Regions from separate parts of the Homo sapiens genome. Here region 1 is linked to region 2. The links come from fine-mapping of genetic effects on gene expression. A gene starts in region 2. The other region holds a variant in brackets. All regions are shown on one strand. Distances are between the middles of the regions. Region 1 overlaps TC2N (tandem C2 domains, nuclear). Region 2 holds the start of TC2N (tandem C2 domains, nuclear).

The links. PIP is the estimated chance that this variant, and not a neighbour inherited with it, causes the effect.
Region 1: its variant is fine-mapped to the expression of TC2N in whole blood (TOPMed, PIP above 0.99). The same link has a PIP of 0.9 or more in blood mononuclear cells.

Annotation. Positions count from the first base shown.
Region 1 is chr14:91,822,921-91,825,948 of GRCh38, forward strand. The region is part of intron 1 of TC2N (tandem C2 domains, nuclear); the gene reads right to left. Among named protein-coding and RNA genes, the nearest start is that of TC2N, 43 kb to the right of the region's middle. The variant G/T (reference allele first, on the strand shown) is at 1,719.
Region 2 is chr14:91,866,098-91,868,597 of GRCh38, forward strand. It overlaps TC2N (tandem C2 domains, nuclear), which reads right to left and starts at 1,439. Exons shown (of 12, transcript NM_001128596.3): 1 at 1,165-1,439. RefSeq lists an enhancer at 1,605-1,654.

The DNA of each region.
Region 1 (3,028 bases), 43 kb before region 2:
TAGCCAGGATGGTCTCGATCTCCTGACCTCGTGATCCGCCTGCTTCAGCCTCCCAAAGTGCTGGGATTACAGGCATGAGCCACCGTGCCGAGCCTATACTCATTATCTTGACTGTGGTGATGGTTTCATAGGTACATACATACATGAAAACATGAAAACATCAAATTATCGATTTCAAGTATATGTAACTTACTACATATCAATTAGACCTCAATAAACCTGAAAAAATAATACATAAGTAGAATTACAGAACATTAACAGAAAAAGAGGCCTCAAAAACATTAGCAGAGCCGAAGGCTTAGAAATCATTTTATCAGGGGCCAGGCATGGTGGCTCATGCCTGTAGTCCCAGCACTTTGGGAGGCCAAGGCGGGTGGATCACCTAAGGTCGGGAGTTCGAGACCAGCCTGACCAACCTGAAGAAACCCCATCTCTACTAAAAATAAAAAATTAGTTGGGCATGGTGGCACATGCCTGTAATCCCAGCTACTCAGGAGGCTGAGGCAGGAGAACCACTTGAACCCGGGAGGCGGAGGTTGCAGTGAGCCGAGATCACGCCATTGCACTCCAGACTGGGCAACAAGAGCAAAATTCCATCTCAAAAAAAAAAAAAAAGAAAAAAGAAATCATTTTATCAAAGTCCTTCTAATTTTACCCAAAGAAAATAATGAGTCAAGCAACTAGATAATGTTAGGTTTAGAACCAAACCCTAAGCTTCACAACTTTTTCTAATACACCACATTGCTTTAGGTAGGGTATGGGTAGAAGGGCAGGACCAGTCAGGTTAACAGACTATGTGCTGGCTATCTACATAGCCACATGTTTGCTTTTTTAGCAACAAGGAGAAACAAATATAAATGGTTAAAAGTATACTGCCTATGTTCCAATCCTGTAACTTTCACTTATTAGCTATATGACCTTAAATCTGTTACTTAACCTTTTTAACCTTCAACTTCTTCATCAATTAAAAAACAACAACAACAACAACAACAAAACACTTCTTAGGGCTATTGTGATGATCAACCAAAGTAATGCACATAAAGTATAAAACTAGTGGTAGGGCTGTTTTAAGAATAAATGTTTGCTGTCATCAGCGGCATCATTATTATATTTATTATCATCAGATCCCACTTACAACAGATCTGATTCATGCTAGGCACTTTACCCAATGCCAGAAATGATATGGGGACATTTAGCTAGAACATTCTAGTATGAGGACAGATTGTAAAAAGACTTAAATACTTCCATATCAATAGATAAAAGCTATAAACACCCTAGTCACTTTAACTCCTCCCTAGGCACCCCTGAGGTAAATGTCTGAAAAAGCAGGGGCCTCCATGACTCTGCTCCAATATTACAGTCAGTGCTCATGCACGACAAGTTGTTAAAATACTTTTAATATCACTTCCTTTTGAGATTCCCAAAGGGCTTATTTGCCTCTGCTGGTCTGACATAGTCTAGGAACAGCCTGTCTATGGTATTCTCACAAATAAAGGACAGTACATCATCACGACTTTCCCCTGCAAACCTGCTTTTCCTCTGGTATTTCCTACTACAGTGCCACTATCCAGCTAATTAACTAAGCCAGAAATACAAGTGCCATTCTTGAGTCCTTCTGCTCCCAAAATCCACACATCCAATTCATCCATTCACTTACAAGCATTTATTGAGCATCTACTATGTACTAGGCAATTTGCTAGGCACTGAAGACAAAATAG[G/T]GAACAAGACAGACAAGCTTTTGGAGCGCTTACAACAGAGGAGGGAGATAAACAGAAAAATAAACAAACACATGATACATTCAATCCAATGAGGAAAATTAACCAGGATTCAAAAGGAATGAATGTTAACTTTGTATAATCAGAAAAGACTTCTCTGAGGAGGTAACAATCCAGCTGGAACATAAACACAAGAAAGGATCAGCTAGCAAAGTTCTTGATGGTGGAGCATTCCAGAAATTGCAAAAATCTTGAGTTGTACCCACTTTGCATTATTTTGCAAGGTACTAAGCAACAGAAAGAGTAGTTAGCAGGTGAACTGTGAAATAGGCAAGGGCTAGAATTCTGTTGAGTAGAGCCCCTTAATCCTTGTAATTTTCTTTTTCTTTTCTTTTTTTTTTTTTTTTTTTTTTTTTTGGAGATGGAGTCTCGCTCTGTCATCCAGGCTGGAGTGCAGTGGTGCGATCTTGGCTCACTGCAACCTCCGCCTCCGGATTCAAGCAATTCCCTGCCTCAGCCTCCTGAGTAGCTGGGATTACAGGCACCCGCTACCATGCCCGGCTAATTTTTGTATTTTTAGTAGAGACGGGGTTTCACCATCTTGGCCAGGTTGGTCTTGAACTCCTAACCTCGTGATCCACCCGCGTCGGCCTCCCAAAGTGCTGGGATTACAGGTGTGAGCCACCGCGCCTGGCCATCCTTGTAATTTTCACACCTTCCTTTCTATTCTCAATTTGACTATTTTGATTCAGATGTTATGATACCCCAAATTACAGAGAGCCAGCTAATAGGTTTGCCTTTCAAATTCTTTTTATCCCCCCACTGTGCTGCTAAGGTCCTTCGTCTGCTTTAAGTAATGCTATATCTCTCTATCACTTTCAGGATAAAATTTATTCTGCTAAATACAATATGTGACCCTTCTCTTGCTCATCTTCCACTACTTCCTTCTGCAAATACCAAGCTTCAAAATATAACTACCTGATGTGCTAGAAACACACCATTCTCTTTTTTACTTTTGCACCTTTGAACTACGTTAGGGTAGGAATGCTTCTTGCTGTCTCTAGTTTCTTTGAGAAAGATTTGTCTGTATTAGAAAACCTACTTGCCTGCAGATACATGCCATATCTAAATTAGCTTTATTAATAACAAAGCCCTATTTCAGTTCTCCATCTGTCTTATTCTTTTGTTTTTCTTTAATTTAGATTTCCTGGCTATCTTATTGATATTGATTTGTAGCTGAATTCCACTGTGATCAGAGAAATTGTATACAATCAATGATATTCATAGTATATCATCAATTTTAATAAATGTTC
Region 2 (2,500 bases):
TATTTCATCTGGCAAGAGGGGAGTAGAGGAGAGTTCCTTTGTCAAGTCTTCTCTCTGTGGGTGACCCCGTTGGCTCAGAATGAACAACTTGGGCACATTACAGTAACCACCCAGGCCACAAAAATGCGTTGAAACCACTGAAAATGAAATAATCAGACCTACTTAAATGTTTTTACCATCTGGGCAAATAACACCCCAAGGGCCAAGACTTACCTAAGAAAGTGTCTGAAGTATGTTACCCAAGCCTGAGAGGCAACAGGTAGGTGGATTTTGTGCCAATTAGAAAGTGTTATGATTGGCAAACCACTGCAAAACTCTGAAATTGCAGTGAAATGGAAATGCTGGCTGTCATCCCCAAAGTACATTTCAAGGAATCACAAAACTTCAGAATTAGAAGCAATTATTTAGGATGAACGTTTTCACCCACATGAAAGTTGGAAGATGAGGTGGTAACACGAGAGCTTTTGCAGGCGTCCCTACTCTTAATCCTGCGCCCCTTCCACCTTGGTACCCTTCATTCTTCAGGACCTGATGGAGTGGTACAAAGCAGAGGTCACTTGACAAGCTCAGCCCAGCTCCTGGATGGGGCAAAGCTGACAAGGAATAGGCACAGGGAGCCTGGAGATCTCAGGGTCCAGGAAACAGCCTGCCCCATTAGAACTGCACAGCAGAGCACAGCACTGGGATCAGAGAGCAGGCTCATCCCCAGTCTTGTACAAAAAATAACATTTGATGATTCCCAAGGGGTAGGTAAAGCAAGTAGCATTTGGGGTTCCAGCAGCCTCTAGAACTGTTTCCCAAATGTTTGGAGCTTGACTTTGCAGTATACACTTTGCCCTGGACTGTTTTTCTCTTAATTTTTAGGCCCAAGTGTATTTTAAGGTAAATGGATCCCACATGCCTCTGGTGCATTTACACTGAACCCATCAGACCACATTTTGAAAGCGCAATTTGAGGTCCAAGAAGCCCTTGGAGGCTGCTTTTATGAGCCTGAGTTTCTTTTCTTAGAAGCAGGAAGCCACATTTTGACATGAACAAATAAAACACAAACCTTAAAGACTCGGATCTGGTTCCAAATGTGGCACCTCTGAAACCAGTGGGTCCTCAAATCATCAAGACAGAAAGCTTCCCAGTTTTCTTTTTGAGAAGTTCATGGAGACTTACCCCTGTGTTCTGTTGAGCCCAGAGGCAGTGGTTCGGAGGCGCTCGGTGCAAAGCTCACGTAAACCTTCAGCATTTCTGATTCCATCCTTCTTCCCAGCCCCTGAGTCTCCCTACACAGCAGGGACCCAGGCTCACTGCTGCCTTCTGGCCTTTGCTTTTCGGAGCCGAGCTGAGTGAGTCCCAAGGGAATCACCCTCTGTTTTATAAGCTTTGAAACCAGAGCATCCTGAGCCATTTGGTGCTGATGTGATTGCTAACACCACTTGACCCTGACTGAAGAACCACAACTAGGCATGGTTTAGATGTGCTTAGTTAGAGAAAAAAATAACCACAGCCAACAGCAAAGTGAGGTGTGTGGTGTGGGTGTGAGAAATGCTCTTGGGGTGAGGAGGGAGGACTTGCAGCTTCTTGGATGCTACAGGGCGTGGAACATGCTGTTTCCTTCCACTGAAGGCCTAAGATACTACTAAGTGGAACAGGAGAATTCCCTGGCCCCCTCACAGGATGTGCAACAGGGGTGTGGCTCTCTCTTCAGCCACCCCAAGCTAAAACCCCTTATGGGAAGGGGAGCACGCAGACAGGCAGGTGCAGGAACCAGGGTGAGCACTTTTGGGCCCCAGCCCCATGACAGCATCCCGGGGTCGGTGTCTGTGACTTCCAAAGCCCGAGTAGGCACTGAAACAGTGCAGTCTTTCAGCCTTGCCATCCGTGGACAGCTTAAGCGTTAACCAGCTTAGTGGACCCTCTCCCTTTTTGCCAGGGCAGAGGGCCAGTGTGACAGTTTCCTGTATCCCGAGCTCTTGTCCAGCATCCCGGAGGGATCAGGTCACACATGGATTTGCAGGATGAATGCAGGGGTTTTATTGAGTGGTGGAGGTGGCTCTAAGTAGGATGGATGGGGAGCTGGACAGGGGATGGAGTGGGAAGATGATCTTCCCCTGGAGTTTGGCCATCCAGTGGCCAGTTTTCAGATCGTCTCCAGTCGAATTCCTCCCAATGTTCCTTCTCTTCTCTCCTTCTTTGCCGTGCTTTTCTGCCATTCATGTCTGCTCATCTTCTTGTCTCCCCGTCTGCTTCTGGAGCCTGGAGCCTGGGGTTCAGGGTTTATATGGGTACAGGATAGGGGACATGGCAGGCCAAAAGGCAACTTTTTAGGGATGAAAACAGGAATGGCTGTCCTCATTTAGGGCCATGGGTACCCAGGCTTGAGGGTGGGGCCTTTGCCAGGGAACCACCCTCTTCTACCCAGTATTTCCCTGTCTCCTGTCCATATCACAAGGATCTGTGGAATGCCTACTAAGACTAGGGGTCCAGGACACAACTCCTGATAGGCACT